Linked DNA regions of Homo sapiens: region 2 is linked to region 1. The links come from fine-mapping of genetic effects on gene expression. A gene starts in region 1. The other region holds a variant in brackets. All regions are shown on one strand. Distances are between the middles of the regions.

What was found. PIP is the estimated chance that this variant, and not a neighbour inherited with it, causes the effect.
Region 2: its variant is fine-mapped to the expression of TFCP2L1 in whole blood (TOPMed, PIP above 0.99). The same link has a PIP of 0.9 or more in monocytes.

What each region holds. Positions count from the first base shown.
Region 1 is chr2:121,280,661-121,289,409 of GRCh38, forward strand. TFCP2L1 (transcription factor CP2 like 1) reads right to left here and starts at 4,542. Exons shown (of 15, transcript NM_014553.3): 1 at 4,388-4,542; 2 at 460-611. The coding sequence starts at 4,449. RefSeq lists a silencer at 4,568-4,707.
Region 2 is chr2:121,193,490-121,202,238 of GRCh38, forward strand. No RefSeq gene overlaps it. Among named protein-coding and RNA genes, the nearest start is that of TFCP2L1, 87 kb to the right of the region's middle. RefSeq lists enhancers at 3,488-4,386, 6,232-6,733, 6,734-7,233. The variant C/A (reference allele first, on the strand shown) is at 4,467.

The DNA.
Region 1 (8,749 bases):
TAAGGTGGGAGGGTCACTTCTTGGGTTGAGGAGGTCAAGGGTGCAGTGAGCCATGATCATGCCACTGCATGCCAGCCTGGGCAACAGAACAAGACCCCCTCAAAAAAGGAAAAAAAAAAAAAAAGAAAGAAAGAAAGAAGGAAGGGAGGGAGGGAGGGAGGGAAAAACAGAAATAATGCTAGCATCTGCTCCATGGAGGGGCTATAGGAGGAATGCAGAGTGTTACCCTGTTACCCGCGTGAGGTATCTGATGTTTCCATTTTTCAGATGAAGACACTGAGGCTGGAGGGGGTCACACAGCTGGAAAATGGAATCTGAACCTGCACCTGTTCTCTTTCCCGAGCCCGACCTCGCCCGACCTCACCCACCGTAACAAAGTCACAAGGCCCAAATGGGCCTTTCGCATCAGCTCCCCACTACTTCTGGGTTCCGCCCTGGCCCGGGGCCTCTGGCCACTACCTTGGTTGAGGTAGGTCAGCGTCTCTTCATGCAGCTTCACGGCTGGGGACGTGGCAGCACACAACACATATTGCAGGGGTGGCAGGCGGGCCTCGTTCTCGGGGGACAGCTGGGGTTCCTCCTGCTTGAAGATGGGCAGAGCGAGCACATCACTGCAACACACGGGAAGCAGAGGTCAGGAGCAGAGCCCCAGGGGGCTCCTGCACAGAGCCAGGGCGAAGCTAGAGAGACGACGCAGACCACCGGGGCCCAGGGTGACACGGCACGCGCATCGCAGGGTGCTGGCTGCACTCCTGCAACCCTCGAATACTCCAGATGCTTTAAAACAGAGGAAACCGCTCCTTCGTGACTCTAGTTTCACTCAATGACCCCCCAAAACACTGATTCAATCAGCCCATCAAGGAGGTAAAAGGGCAAAGTTAGCTAACATCTACAGAAATCCTCTCCATGCCAGAGACAGGCTAGCAGCAAAGGGACCTCTAAGACATTTATTTGGTTTCTATCCACAAGCGATCACTCATAAAGTTTCACTTTTAGAATAAAAATCTAAACAAACATTTTTATTTTTTAATCAACAATTCCATTTACCGGCCACTTCTCATAGCAATACAACTCTGTCCTCCAGGCTCTGTAAACTATGCAAATGAACAAACCACTTCCTTCCCTCCCTGAGTACCCAGGTTGAGACATTCCTCCATCCCTTCTAAAGAGAGGACAACTGGACACTGTTTTCAGGGTCATTCTAATCTGTCCAAAAGGCAAACAGGAAGGAAGGACCTTGGCTTCAAGTCTGTGTTTGTGTGGTTGTTTTTTTTGGGCGGGGGCGGGGGGGACGGAGTTTCACTCTTGTTGTCCAGGCTGGAGTGCAAGTGGCGTGATCTCGGCTCACTACAACCTCCACCTCCCGGGTTCAAGCAATTCTTGTGCCTCAGCTTCCTGAGTAGCTGGGATTATAGGAATGAGCCACCACACCTGGCTAATTTTTGTATTTTTAGTAGAGACAGGGTTCCACCATGTTGGTCAGGCTGGTCACTAACTCCTGACCTCAGGTGATCCACCCTCCTCGGCCTCCCAAAGTGCTGGGATTACAGGTGTGAGCCACCGCGCCCAGCCCAGTCTATTTTCTTATCCAAGTGGGAAATCTTGAAATCCTTGCTCCAAGTTTCTTTTCCTCCACCTCTTAACAAAACTCTCCACATTAAAAAAAAAAAAAAAAAAAAAAAAATGAAGTCATCATCCTGCGACTTAGGGAGGAACTTGTTTCTGGACGTATTTTTTAAGCCAGGAACAGTGGCTCATGCCTGAAATCCCAGTACTTTGGGAGGCTGAGGTGAGAAGACTGCTTGAAGCCAGGGGTTTGAGATCAGCCTGGGCACCATAGTGAGACCCCACCATCTCTAAAAAAAAAAAAAAGGAAAAAGAAAGAAACAAAAAACCCAGCATTTTAAAAATGCCCTTACAAGGGACAAAGAATTCCTTGAGAACATGAATGACCTACAGGCAGGCAAGGCTTGTGTAAGGTCTCTAAATTATGAGCAGCACATAAACAAGTGCCAAATAAGTGCCAGTGCTCTTATCTTGATAACCCTCTTCCCTTCGTGGGTCCCTGACTAGGAATCCAATTAGCTGACCCCACTTGTCTGTATAAACAGAGTCACTGGTACAATCTGTTCCTCGCACATCATAAACAAGCGTCTCTACAACACAAACCCGGCACACACCCCATCAACATCTCATCAATTTTGAGAAGAAAAAGCCTGGCATTGAGCACACACCTGGAAAACCTGCCCTGTGTGGGCCTCCCCCGTCACCATCCACTGCCGAAAAATAAGGGTGCAAGGCCGTCTCGACTTTCCCCCACAGGGCGTCTTCCTTTTGTCAGAGCAGGGCACACTCCCAGCCCGGGTGGTTCTCTAGGAACACTGAGGATTGCATAATTTCATGTTTGCCCAGACCATGTCAAGTTAATAATCCACGGACTGCTGCCTTTAAATTTTTTAAACAGGGGCGGGTGGGCAGAGGAAGTTAAGAACCATCCCTCAACAGTAACTTGTTTCAAGCCTGGCATCTTTATTTGCCAAGGAATAAAAGTCACGAGAACATCAAACAGAAAGGGGGAAGGGAGTAAAGGCCTCTACCCTGGTGAGGTCAGACAGCTTGCAGAAGTTCTGCCAAGTGAGGAGACGACCAAAAATAAAATACAAAAAACGCAAGGAAAAGGACCAGACCCTCCCTCTAGAGTCAGGGGACCAGGGGCATATGCACAAACCGCCACCTTGGCCCTCACTGAGGGCAAAACTCCCAGCTTCCAAGAAGTGAAATAAAAAAGGGCAAGGACTTCTTTATCCATGGTCCCCCGATGACCCCAGAAGCCAATATGGCTTTACAGCACCACCCACTCCCAACGCTCACCCTCCTCCTTTCACCAAATCCTAAAAGGTACCTGAGCTACTCCAGACAAACTTCCATCTCGGTAGCAGATGTCAGAACTGTACCTCCCAGGCAAGGGAGAATTGTTCCCTAACGGGGTGAGGACATTGTAGGTATCTAGGAAGTTTCAAGTACACTCACCTTCAACTCAGGGTCACCTTCAAACTCATTGTTAAGATATGGCAACATACTTAATGGCAGCAAACTAAAACTTAGCCAAAGCTACAACTAAAACTTCAGTACAGTAAAAATGTATTCCATTGTAGCATTTCTTGCAAGTGAATGGACACTTAATCTCTGGGTGATTAACATCTCCTCCTGGGCTTCCCTCTGGTGACATCACCGTGGTCTGCCGGGTGGCTGTCAGCCTTTAAGGCTCTAGACCTTTGCCATCTCCGACTACTTTGGCCCATGAATAAAAACAGCAGATACATCCACTAAACCCAATCATTCCCCCGCCTCCAGGAAAAGGGGATGTCTTCAGGGAGGACAAATACCTACCAGCAGCCAGGAATTACAAATAACGTTTTAAGATCTAAGTGGGAACTTCTTGGGGCCAAAACTAGCACTTAAAGGTAGCTCTAGTATGGGGGCTGTCAATGCCTGTGACTCCTTCGGCCTCATCATTCATTTTCCTTGAGCCCATATCAAATGCCCTTTGGGTTAAATTAGGCACATTTCATAAACTGTGACTAAGATGGAAATAAGGACAGGCTAAAGCTGGTTCAGGCGAGTTCACAAAGTGAAATGACTGCCCATTAGTCCCGGCCAGCAGCAGAACAGGGAAAAACAATCCTCCGGGAGCGAGAGCACACGGGGTCCTACTGCTAAGAGGGGCCTGTGGGGAACTGTGCAAAACACGCAGGACTTACTTTCCCCTCTGAAGGGCACTACTCAAATCCCTCCAGCAGAAGAAAGATTTCCATCAAGGGCAATAACCACGCGGGCCTCGGGCGAACACGCGCAAGACCATCGCGGGAAGTGGGGCGGCCTGCCCCTCCGAGCCCGCCGCCCGCCCCTCGTCCAAGGAAGGGCACTGCAGAGGGCGCGAGGCTGGGAGAGGGGCCCCGGCGGAGACGGGCAAAGAGCAGGGGACGAACTTCCCCGGGCCGGGCACCAGGCTGCTGGCAGGAAGTTTCCTCTGCTTCTCCGATACGCGGGGGAGAGGAGGGCCGCAGGGGGCGGACGGGCCAGGGGAGGCGGCGGGCCGGCAGGTGCGCGCCCTGCACCCTCTCTGCCGCCTGGGAGGAGCCCTCGCAGACATAGGGCTCTGCGCGCTCGCCTCCCCAGCGGGCCCCCAACTCCGCACGTCGGGTCCCGCCGGCGTCCATCTGTCAGTCCCTAGGCGGGACGCTGGGCGGGTCTCTCAGTCCCCAGAGGGCGGACAGCGGGGAGGCCAGGGCCCAGCAGGGGCGCCCCCTCTCCGCCCCTGGACGTCCAACGGCGCCCGGCCCGCCGGCCCGGCCCGAGACCCGCGGGGACCGCGCGCGGCCCTTACCGCAGGTAGCTGCCGGAGTTGTGCTGGTTGTAGTGCTCGGGCTGCGTGTGCCAGAAGAGCATGGCTGGAACTCCCAGCGCGCCGACCGGGGCGCGGCAGCAAGCGCAGACGCGGGGCGCGCCGAGGACCCAGCGGCGGCTTCGCGCTCCGAACCCGCGGTGCCGGCCGGCTCGGCGCATTTATCGGCGGCCCAGGGGCGGGACAGCGGTGAGACCCGCCCCCCAGGAAGCGCGGCCCGGAGGGCGGCTCCCCGCGGCAGCCGCACCTGGCTGACTCCCGCGCGTGCCTTTCCGGCGAGCGAGCGCGCCTCCGGGGCGGCCAGACCAGAGGGCTCTAGGGCCGGCCGGGTGCTCTCCCCAAACTCCGATGTGGGGCTCAGGTGACCCTTGCCGCCCCCAACCCGCTCCACACGGCCCCTCTGGCCTCTGCTCCCCACTCTACGCCCAGGGCCGGTCTCCAGAGCGGCTCCGAGATTTCCAGCCTAGGCCCTCTCTGTCGCCTTTCCTCGCTCTTGTTTTTTCATAGCACTTCAGACGCTCTGAAATCATGGGGGTTTTTTTGTTGGTTTTTTTTTTTTTGAGACGGGGTCTCGCTCTGCCACCCAGGCTGGAGTGCAGTGGCGCGATCTCGGGGCTCACTGCAACCTCTCCTCCCAGGTTCAAGCAATTCTCCTACCTCAGCCTCCTGAGTAGCTGGGATTACAAGCGCCCCCCATCACGCCTGACTGATTTTTTTATTGTTAGTAGAGACGGGGTTTCGCCATGTTGGCCAGGCTGGTCTCGAACTCCTGACCTCAGGTGATCCGCCCACCTTGGCCTCCCAAAGTGCTGGCATTACAGGCGTGAGCCCCCGAGTCAGGCCGACATTTTTTTATTTTTTATTTTTACTTGTGTACTGATTGTCTTTCCCATTAGACTGTAAGCTCCAAGAGGACAGGGCCTGGCTCGCTTAACACCCCGTTACCTGCACTGCCTAGAACAGTGCATGGGACATAGTTAAGATAAATGTTTGTTGAGTAAACATAAAAAAAGAAAAAAGGAATGCACCAAAAGAGTAATCAGAGAAGCCTTCCTGGAGGAGGTGACATTGAGCTGAGACCTGATGGATGCAAAGGAAGCATCTCTGTGAACATCACCTAGGGAAAAATAGTTCCAGGCATAGTTCCCTACCCCCTTGGCAACAGTGACTGCCAAAGCCTTGAGGAAGACCTACTTGGCATGGCTGGTCTTGAGGAGAGCTTAGGAGATGAGGTGAGGAGGGCGGGGAAGATCAGAGGGCCTGGCAGGCCAGGACAAGGAGCTAGGATTTTATTCTGTGTTTTAAGCAGAGGAGTCACATGTATGATTTGCCTTTTGGAAAGATCAGTCTGGCAGCAGTGTAGACAGTGGGTCATGGGGTGGAGGGGAGGGCCATTAGGAGGGAGTGGAGTTCCCTGGAGCCCTGACCCCTATCCAGGTGCTATCCGGTTCTCCAGTACATGGCACAGCACCTGGCACAGAGGAGATGGGGATTCTGTCCCTGAGTATTAATCCAGTCAAATGACATCCCTTGGGGACCTGGTCCAGAACTCCCCACTCCCCCACGCATGGATGTGGGTAAAACCCTCCCTCACTCTGCTGTTCCTGCCCTCCTCCCTCCAGCCATAGGTCACAACTGGCAAACCACTTCCTCTGTGCAGCCCTCAAGGACTGCCCCCCACTGTTCTGCCCTGTTAGGAGAATGGGAATATTTCCCCGGCTTCAGGTGGTGCTGTCAGCAGACAGTCCCCCAGCCATCGGCTTCTCCAGGAACTGCCCCTGCTCAGAGAGCAGCCTTGCCCTCTGTCATGTCCCTCCTGGGATAGCCCACATCCCAATGACTATCCCAGCAGAAGTATAAAAGCTTGGCCATCTCTGCCTGACTGGGGACAGTGCTGATGGGGTATTTTAGCCCCAGGACTCCCCATGAAGACAGTCAAAGCTGTCACAAGACCTGTGTCCTGCTCAGGGTCTCCCTCCTGCTTCCTTCCAGTTCCTTGCCCAGGGGTTACTCTTAAGGGAACTTCCAAAGAAACATCCTGAACACCGACCCCCACAACCAACCTCACCCCATCAGGGTCCATGACAAACCCATTGTTTAAATGGGAGACACTCTGGGGTGGTCTGGAAAGAACATGTCCTTTGCTGGACTCGTCCTTGAGTTCTAACAGGAGAGGTCCATGGGTAAGCAGCAGTGACAGTACAGTGTGGTCAGGGACGTAGAGGCTGCCCTGGGAACACAGAGGAGGACTCTGGAGCTCCGAAGAGGCTCCAGCATGAAGTGATATCTCCTGATGGATGGGTGAGTGGAAGTGAAACCAATCTGTGGAGATGGAGGGAGGTTTCCGGCCCAGTAGACGCTCCTGCAAAGGCCTGGAGGAAGGGCAGTCAATATTATTAGATGGTTCAGACCTGGGTTTACTACTTAGCTCCATCTGAATCTATGACCTTGGGTGGAGTAAATTGACCTCATGCTGCTTCTCCCATCAAGAGGTGGTGTCTGTTTCCCTCCCCTCCCCCTTCCGCCTGGGCTGACCCTGTGACTTACTTTAACCATAGAATGCAGAGGAAGTAATGCTTTTCCCTTCTGGGCTGGCCCCTAGGCAGCTTCTCTTTTTTTTTTTTTTTTTTTTGAGACGAAGTTTCTTGTTGCCCAGACTGGAGTGCAATGGCAGGATCTCAGCTCACCGCAAGCTCTGCCTCCTGGGTTCAAGCGATATTCCTGCCTCTGCCTCCTGAGTAGCTGGGATTACAGGTGCCTGCCACCACACCCAGCTAATTTTTTATATTTCAATTAGAGACGGGGTTTCACCATGTTGGCCAGGCTGGTCTAGAACTCCTGACCTTCAGGTGATCCACCCACCTCAGCCTCCCAAAGTGCTGGGATTACAAGCATGATAGGCAGCTTCTCTTAACTCTCCCAGAGCTCTGAGCCACCAGGTAGAGTCCAAATGCCCCATTGGAGAGGGAGACCTGGTCAGCCTCCAATCCCTCTGGCCACTCCGCAGAGCCCATCTAAGATGCCCCAGGGGATTGCCTCCAACCACACCTCATAGAACTGAGGCAAGCCCTGCCCACCCAAGCCCTGCCCAAAATGCAGGCTCGAGAGCAAATGGATGGCTGTGGCCTTACGCCACTGAGGTGTGGGCTGGTTTGTTTCATACAAATGGAAAAATGATACGCTGGGCCCTGTGGATCTGGGTTTTGCTATTGGGAATAATAAGGGCTCATTTCATGGTTGTGGTGAAGCTTAGGTTCAGGTGAGTTTAGCTTCTCAGGGATGATGGCTCTCATGACCTAAGTATGACTCTCTGTATTTTGGGTCATTGCCTACTTTCTCTCTCTTTGTAGGTTTTTAACTATGGGAGGGTAGAATTCAGCAATGCCTACAGAGACAGCATTTGAGTCACACTGTGTGAACAAAAATGCATATTTCTGCCCATGACTCTTGGGTGTTACAGGGCCCAATTAGGCCTAGTCTGGACCCCTGGGGCTTCCAGGCTGCTGAGGAGGAGGAGACAGATGTGCAGGAGATGGCCTGCCAGTTCCTCTTTTATTCTGTGAATGTTCACAGTTCCCATGTGGTGGGAACATTGATTTTTACTATGCACCAGACCCAGAGCCATGCACTGTCATCTCCCGACACTGAGAAGAAGAGACATCACCTGACCTTCTGATTGAAGAAACAGGCTTGGGAGGCTGACTGCCACAGCTGGGATTTGAGGCCAGGCCTGTAAATTCAACAACCATACTCCGACTCTCATCCATTCCTGTCTTAAGGCCCGGCATTCCTTTCTTCACCCCACACTGGGCAAAGGTGCTGTGACCAGATGTCCTCTGCTCCCAGGATCAGCCCGGGGTCCCTGCAGAGGCAGCAGAAAGGGGCCCACTGAGTACTCAGGTGTCACCCCCTTAGCAGCCCCACAAGGGATTCCCAGCTGCTCTCGAAAGAGATCACGATGAATACTGGGGATTCACGTCTGAGAAGATGGTTTTGAGGCATGAATAGGAGTTGAAGGATGGCCAACGTAGAGGGCGGAATTGAGCCAGAGGGAAAGCGTGTGCACACATGTTTATCACAGTTTATCTTGGGATCAGCAGCGCTGAACGAGGGAAGCAGTGAGCAGAGGACAGAGTTAAGCTGTGAGGCCTCAGTGGATCCTATATGAGCTCAGGGCCAGGCTGGTGCTCCAAGTTGTCCAGAATTTGGGCAGGGGTTCAAGCCTTTCTATACCACCTTGACCAGTCATGGACAGATGTGGTTGCCCTGGGGAAGGGACATCACTTTGGGCAAAGCAGCTCAGCTGAGTCCTGGAGAGGGACCTGTCAGTGTTATCACCTGCCA
Region 2 (8,749 bases), 87 kb before region 1:
ACAGTTTGGAAAACTCTAAAACAGGTAATACACTTATTCATTCATTCACGTATTCATCCAACAAATATGTGTTTGGCCCTGTGCTGGGCACTGGGGTGGGGCAGTAATTGAAGCAGATGTTGTCCTGCCCTCATGAGCTTACCTTCCACTGGGGGGACAGACCTAATGCCACTTTCTTTCCTTTTTTGTTTTTTTGTTTGTTTTTTCTTTTCTTTTCTTTTCTTTCTTTTTTTTTTTTTTTTTTTTTTGAGACGGAGTCTCGCTCTGTCGCCCAGGCTGGAGTGCAGTGGTGCTATCTCAGCTCACTGCAAGCTCCACCTCCCAGGTTCATGCCATTCTCCTGCCTCAGCCTCCCGAGTAGATGGGACTACAGGCACCTGCCACCACGCCCGGCTAATTTTTTGTTGTTGTATTTTTAGTAGAGATGGGGTTTCACCGTGTTAGCCAGAATGGTCTTGATCTCCTGGCCTCGTGATCCGCCCGTCTCCGCCCCCCAAAGTGCTGGGATTACAGCCTGTTTGTTTTTCTTTTTTTCTTTTTATTATACTTTAAGTCCTAGGGTACATGTGCACAACGTGCAGGTTTGTTACATATGTATACATGTGCCATGTTGGTGTGCTGCACCCATTAACTCGTCATTTACATTAGGTATATCTCCTAATGCTATTCCTCCCCTCTCTCCTCACCCCACAACAGGCCCCATGCAGCTATAAAAAATGATGAGTTCATGTCCTTTGTAGGGACATGGATGAAGCTGGAAACCATCATTCTCAGCAAACTATCGCAAGGACAAAAAACCAAACACTGCATGTTCTCACTCATAGGTAGGAATTGAACAATGAGAACACTTGGACACAGGAAGGGGAACATCACACACCGGGGCCTGTTTGGTTTTTTTTAATGCCACTTTCTTTCATTCATTTACACACTCAATAAATATTGAGTGTTCCGAAGTTCCCAACCCAGTGCCAGACCCTGGAGACAGAATTGAATCGGCTGTGATTGCTGCCCTCAGGAATTTTTAATTAACTAATCTAAGAGACTGTTTCTCTGGAGTAAGGCATAAGTGGCCTGGTTTTTTGCAAAGGAAGCTCCCTTTGCAAACACAAGCCATCCTTCCCCTTTCATTCCTGGGTTAGCCCATCCCTCACACCATAAACCAGGTTGAATTTGGGGTCAAGTTCAACCCTTCATGTGCTGTGAAGGTATTCCACTGGTCTGGGGACAGTGTGGCGGGGGTCTGGCATCCGGCCCTAGGAGCAGCCACAGCAGTGAGGGAGCATTGACCCATGTCATCCCAGGGACCTGATAGCGTTTCCTGCTGCACAGCACCCAAGCCTGGCCTGCAGGCTCTGGGCATCTCTGTAATCCCTTCCAGCAAGATTCAGATGCCTCCAAGCAAGAACCTGCTGCAGGCCGGGCTCCCTGGAAGCAGACTCTGCTTTAGATTAGCATCCGGGACTGTCACTGGGAAGCACTCTGGGACTCCATGTTGGGGTGGGGGATGAAGGTGGGATTGAGTGGAGGGAGAAGTTGGGTTGTGAAGCAGCCTCAGTGGAGGCCTCAGTTGATGCCACAGGCAGCTCTGGAGCTGGCATTGCCCTGAGTTGTCCCAGGTTGGGGCAAGAGACCAAGCCTTTATATCTGCGCATGAGGCTCTTCCACACAGGCACGGGCATCCTCTGAGGAAGAAGATGGCCCTGGGCAATGAAGCTCCCCTCGGCCAAGGCAATTCCTGGAAAGGCTGATGGGCAGCCTCCCAGCAGCTGTGGACTAAGTCCCTCAGTCCTGAAGCAGGACTGGGATGGCTTGTTCCAGCGTCCCCCACAAATGCCGACAGCAAGAGGCAGTCTGGCTAGGGGGAATAGCAACCCTAAAGCTGGTTTTCTCTAAAGCTTTAGAGCCTAGTCCCAACTCCCCACTCCAGCTTACCCCTGGGCAAGCAGCTCTGCCTCTTAGAGGAGCCTCCATTTGCTCAAACCTTGCAGGCTTTAGTGAGGTTAATCATGTCACAGCATTAAGTGAAAGGCTTCCTGGAGGAGGTGACACCTGAGCTGAGTCATGAAAGGAAGTGAAAGGTAGGTGTTGACCCCACAAAGAGGGGAAAGTTGCCCCAGGCAGAGGAGGACACCTGTTGGGACCAGAGGCCTGAGCAGGCTCAAGAGAAGCACCAGCGACTCAGTGTAGCTGCTGTGGAGAGGGAGGGGTGCTTAAGAGATGAGGCAGGATGATGGGCAGGGGCAGATCACAGAGGGCTGGAGGGTCAGGAGAGGGGAGGCTGGCCTCATTCTGCCCTCAGAGGAATCTGCCTTCTATCCTAGTGGCTTCCGGCTTCCATTTGTATGACGCTCACACAAGTTAGGGATGCTCTCAGTGGCTTACTTGTATAAGCTCATTTAACCTTAACAACACTGTTAGGAGGTATGGACTCTTACCAGTTCCATTTTACAGATGAGAACACTGAGGCACGGAGAGGCTCAGTCAGTTGTCCAAGGTCACACAGCTTGTAAGTGGAGCCCAGGCTGTCTGACACCAGAGCACACACTCCTAACCTCTACATTGTTCATCACAGGGGCACCTTTGGGTGGCCCAGGGCTGTGTCCTCTCACCACCCTGATTCTGCTTGACCCAGCCAGGTAGAGCCCTGTGGACGGGGCCCGCCAAACCAAAGCCTTCAAACCCTCCAAACCCTCAAACCCTCAAAGGCAGCTTGTCTTCCAGGGACAATGCCACTGACGCCAAGCCCCAGGGGTTGGGCTATGGGCCAGGGACATGGTTTGGCTCCAGAACATCACAGAGCAATTTGCAACACCTTCCAAATGCAATTGGAGCAGCCAAGAGAGGCAGGTGAGGTGCAGCCCTTACGTGCACCTCAGGTGTATGGCTGGGTGTCGGGTTACCCCAAGGGCAGAGGAAAAGCCTTGGCAGGAGATGAGGGCTGCAGCCAGACCCCTGTCCCCTGCCCACACACCCACATTCCCTCCTGCCTTACGCATTGCTCAGACCCCCACACCCAGTGTAGCCCGGCAGTCCTAGCTACGACCTCCTGCAGCCCCAGCTGCAGCTCCCGCCTCTCACCTCCTTAGCCCCAGTAATTCCACGTGCAGGGGTCTCCTTCCCAACTGGTGTACACTCAGGAGGGGAACACCCATCACCTGCGGCACGCTGGGCTCTGGGGCATAACTCTGGAGGGCTTAAAGACCTCACGTAAGACTACAACGCTTCCCAAGGCTCTGCTGCACGCTAGGTGCCGACTTTGGGGCTTATCTTCCTCATAGCCTCGGCAAACATCAACTGAACACACCTGTGTGCCGTTGGCCTGGGCAGGAGCATTGAGGTGAATCGGGCCCAGGCCTGCTCTCAAGGCACTCACTGGTAAGCACGGGCCTCCTCGCAGCTGGGGGAAATAGTGCCCGGGAGCCATGGGCCTTACCCACAAAGAGACTTAGGGGCCAGTGAGTGATGGAACCAGGCTTGCGTTGGGCCCGCTTTGGGCAAAACACCTCCCATCCCACCTGGAGCTCCTGCCACAATCTACAAGACAGGAGGCAGCCAGACACAGTGGCTCATGCCTATAATCCCAGCACTTTGGGAGGCCGAGGCAGGCGAATCACCTGAGGTCAGGAGTTTCACCCTGGCCAACATGGTGAAACCCCGTCTCTACTAAAAATACAAAAATTAGCTGGGCGTGGTGTCAGGCACCTGTGATCCCAGCTACTCGGGAGGCTGCAGCAGGAGAGTCGCTTGAACCCTGGAGGCGGAGGTTGCAGTGAGCCAAGCTCGTGCCACTGCACTCCAGCCTGGGCGACAGGGTGAGATTCGGTCACCTAAAAAAAAAAAAAAAAGACAGGAGGCTCAGAGAGGACCGCATCTTGCCTGAGCTCACAAGCCAGCCACGGCTGAATTCAAACCGAGCTGTGAATAACTCCGAGTCCACGTGCCCCGGGAACACCAAGCTGAGAGGAGAACAGTGCTGGAACAAGAGACCAGCTCGGGGGTGACACGGAAGGAGCAGGCCTTGGAGAAGAGTGGTGACTCACTGGGACACTTCGTGGTTACAAAACAGGCCAGGCTCCTGCCAGACACTCACACTCGGTTACTTTTCTTTTAATTCCTTCCCTGCCCTTCCACTCCCTGTTCCCTGGGCACAGTAAGTACATTCTGTTCTTCCTGAACTTCTCACTGAACAGGGCAACTCGATTCTTCTCCCATGGACTGAGGGCCCTTGGCCGACTGGAATCACGGGTGCCAGGCCAGGGCATCAGGAAGGACACAAGAGGGACCAGCCTGTTCTGGCCAGCCTGCCAATCTGCCGGCTCCCCAGTGCTTTGGGGTCAAGTTCAACCCTCAACTAAGTCCCAGGCCTTTGAGATGAGCTTACTCTGCAATCTCGTGTCCCCTACCCCTCTCGGGTACCAGCACGGAAGTGCTGACCAACCCTGCATACTCACTGGCCACCCCACACC[C/A]CCGGCCTGCCCACGCCACACCTCACCAGTGTTGACCAGAGGAGTTCCTCAAAATAAAATCCAAATTAGCTAATAGTGTTATTGCAATTTCCTAACATGAATTATGGTACTGCGGTTATGTTAAAGGGTGTCCACATTTTTAGGAAACACTCACTGAAATATTCAGAGGTAAAAGGGCTTCCTGTCTGCAACTTACTCTGAAATATTTTAGAAAAAAATGTATTAAGAGAATGAGAGAGAGGGCCGGGTACGGTGGCTCACGCCTGTAATCCCAGCACTTTGGGAGGCCAAGGTGGGCGGATCACAAGGTCAGGAGATCGAGACCATCCTGGAACACAGAGAAACCCCGTCTCTACTAAAAATACAAAAAATTAGCCGGGCGTGGTGGCGGACGCCTATAGTCCCAGCTACTCGGGAGGCTGAGGCAGGAGAATGGCGTGAACCTGGCAGGCGGAGCTTGCAGTGAGCCGAGATAGCGCCACTGCACTCCAGCCTGGGCGACAGAGTGAGACTCTGAATAAAAAAAAAAAGAGAGAGAATGAGAGAGAGATGGGGAGAAAAAGCAACTGTGGTAAAACATGAACATTTTAAGGAGTTCGAATTGTATCAGAAATAATTTGTACTATTTTGGTAACTTTTCTGTAAGTTTGAAATTATTTCTAAAATTTACAGCTGGGTGTGGTGGCTCATGCATGCCCCCGCTTTGGAAAGCTGAGGAGGGAGAGATCCCTTGAGCCCAGGAGCTGGAGGTTACAGTGACCTGTGACCGCACTCCAGCCCGGGTGAGAGAGCGAGACCCCGTCTCTAAAAAATATAAAATTAAAATTAAGTTACAAAAACTTGGGAGGAAAATAAATTTTAAAACCCCACTAACCTCAAGCCTCATCTCCAGGAAGTGCCCCAGACCCCTGAGGCTGGGATGAGGGGTCCTATGGTGTTGTGACAACTATCTTGGTTTTCGCCCACAGTTCCTGGCTCATAACCCCCACAGCCATCGTTACAGGCTTGGGTTATGGTGTTGGGTGTCTAAGGCCTCAGGGGCAGGCCCTTGACCTTCTCCTGCCCTCCCTTCACGCCTGTGTCCCCTGCCTTTCTGACTGTGGGTCTTAAGACCACAGTCTTACCCTGGGGGAAGGAATGCTGATGTCATGAGGCTTCCATAAAAACCCAAGAGGACAGGGTTCAGGGAGCTTCCAGGCAGTTGAACACATGGAGAACGCTGGAGGGTGGTGCCCCAGGGCAGGCATGGAACCCCCACACCCCTCCGCCATACCCTGCCCTATGCGTCTCTTCACCTGTATCCTTTGCAATATCCTTTATAATAAAACAGTAAACGTAAGTGTCTCCCTGAGTTTTGTGAGCCGCTCCAGCAAATTACTCAAACCCAAAGAGGGGGTCATGGGAACCCCAACTTGAAGTCAGTATGTCAGAAGTTCCGGAGGCCTGGACTTGTGACTGGTGGAGGTGGGGGGCAGGGGCAGTCTTGGGGACTGAGCCCTCCACTTGTGGGGTCTCACACTATCTCCAGGTAGGGAGTCAGAATTCGAGGACCCCCAGCTGGAGTCCGCTGCTTGGTGTGTGGAAAACCCCCGCACATCTGATCACAGAAGTATTCTGTGTTGATGATTGTTGAAGAGAGTTTTCTCCACACGGTTCCCTTCCAGACATGCCCCATCCCCTCACCACTGCATGCCCCCATCACACCTTGTCTCCATGTCCTGTTTGCTTGCCACTTTAGGAGTGAGTGCCCTGGAGGATGGGACAGTGTCTCCTTCCGATCTGTGATCTGGGTGATACGACACCTCTAGCTCTGTGCTCAGTTCTCTACAGCAAGACATGGACCCAGGCAGCACTGGGTGCCAGGTGCCACTCTAGGCCTGGAGAATGCAGTGATGGAGATTCACCCAGCCCCCACCTAGTGCAGCTGACCTTCCAGGAGAACCTGGAGCTGGGGACAGGAAGAAGGTCAAAGCTGGGGCTGCAGGCCTCCTTCCCATGGTGTCTCCTACACTGCAGTCCAGCCATTTCCCACTCCTTCCGGGGCTCCACATAGCCGAGGGCTCCACTTGTGGCTTGCTGTCATCCCCCCCAGCCTCTTGCCTCACACGTGCCCTCCGTGACTTCATCTGACACAGAGACCCTGACCCGCCTGAGCCCTGGCCTTCCCTCTCAGCATGTTTCCAGCTGCCAGTGGGCCAGGCGACAGGGAAGGGATGGCTTTGAGGCCTCAAGGCTCTGGCCGGTGGGCCTTGGGGTGGGGCAGGGTGTGGCACTCCAGGGAGGCTGGCCAGGATGAGCATTGCGGCTGTGGGCTCCTGCAGCTCCTGAGCCGCTGTGTGTTGCTGTAGAGTCCTGAACTCAGAGCTAGCAGTGCCGTGGGGACCCTGCTGTGCAGGCTTACAGTTGCCCTCATTGCTCCAGTGGCTCTGTGTGCGTCTCTGCTCCCTGCCTTTGAAGGACCTTGCAACTTGCCTAAGACAGGGTGCAAAGTGTGAAGAAATGGGGGGCCAGACCGAGTTGTCAAAGAACGCTTCAGCAGAGGGAGACTTCAGCTGAGCCTTGAAGGAGGAGGGAGAGGCAGGCAGATGGAGCACATTCCAGGCAGAAGACTTCCCCAATCGATGAAGGATGTCCTGGAGAAATGCTCAGCGTGCCCTGGCCACAGTGAGAAGACGACTGATTCGTGAGCTCCGGTATCAACAGAAGATGCTGTTTCAGACCCAAGAGGCTGAGCAGATGGCAGAATGGCAGCCTCCAGCAGGGACACAGGGCCAGGATCTATTCTCGAGTTGCTACCAGAGAGCCGGGGCTGGAGGGCCCTCCCTGCTTCCTTTGAAAGACACCCATGCCCCTGGTCTGGAGGGAAGTTACCTGGGCCCTCTGCCCCCAGTACGATGTGACATTCTAGCTACCCAGTGGCTATGATTAAAGGCCAAGAATGAGCTCAGCCATGGAACTCAGTGGTGGCCCCTGCTACCACCTCCACCCTGCCAGGACTGTCTTCCCCCAGTCACACACCTCACCCCCAAAACACAGGATCTCTTTTCTTCCCTGCGGTCATAGCCAAGATCAGCTACAGGCAAGATGCTCTGCTCAGTGCACTTGGGGCCTCCCACCCTGCTGGCTGTTGGCAAAAGGCGCTTTCAGAGGCTCCTCATGCAAGGATTAGGAGCCAAAGCTGGGAGGAAGGAAGGTGAGTCAGACAGACCTGTGTTCCAAGTCTGACCCTCCATGATTTTTGACCTTGAGTGAGCCTTAGAATTCAATCACCTCCTTGGCAGAAATGGACATAAAGATATCTGCACTGCAAAGTCACTCATGAGCATGAGTCCTAACGCACCCCAGATGCCCGGCCTGGTGCCCGGCACAGGGAGCCTCCAGACAGATGGCAGCCATTCCTCATTTTCAGAGGATTTGTTGTGTTCCCAGGTTGGTTGTTTTCCATAATTATCTTCACCAGCCAGGAGTCCCTTGAGCCAAGGATGGTGTCTTGCTTGTGCCTGGGCTCCAGGGCTAAGCACTGCTCCTGGTACATGGGAAGTGCCTGGTATCTGTGCATGAGTGTCCTTACAGGCCAGAGTGTCACCCACCTTCAGATCTGCATTGGGGCAATTTCTAGGGGAGCCTGACTCTGCTGGTCTCTGCCTGATCCTGCCTGGGAACTGGCTGGGAACAGTCTTGGCTTTGCCCTGCCCTGGACCCCTTGCTGGGCCCTGGATCCCTGTGGATGACTTCTCCAGGCTTCACCCCAGGCTCTACCTCCCATTCAGCAGGAGCTGAAAAAGAAAAAAGAAAACAGTCTATGGGAGTCAGAGCCAGAGTCTCCCTGCTAGATCAGCTTGAACTTTGAGTCCACTTTCTCTTCAAGAGGGAAAGAATGAATGAAAGGGACAGATGAAGGAGGAAGGTAGAAGTAGGTGAAGCACAGAACTGGCCTCCCAAGTGCATCTGCAATAGAGGGGCAGGGATGGTCACCAGAAGGTGCCATCTCTGGAGAGGGGTGAGCACCCCTTCCTGGGAGGTGGCCTGAGTGCTGACACAGAGCTGACCAGCCGGGAGGTGTGTACATGGCACCTACATGGACACAGTCTCTGGACAACCTGTAGATCTGCAGCCAGTCCCAAAGCAAGGGAGCAGGAGTAGGTGTCAAGGATGGAGTACGTTCTGCAGGGAGCCCAGCAGCAGGAAGTGGGACCATGCTGGGCGCACCCCTGATAACTTACCTTCCTTCTCCTCTGCTTCCTCATCTGAAAATGAGTGTAATAACACCCACCTTGCAAAGC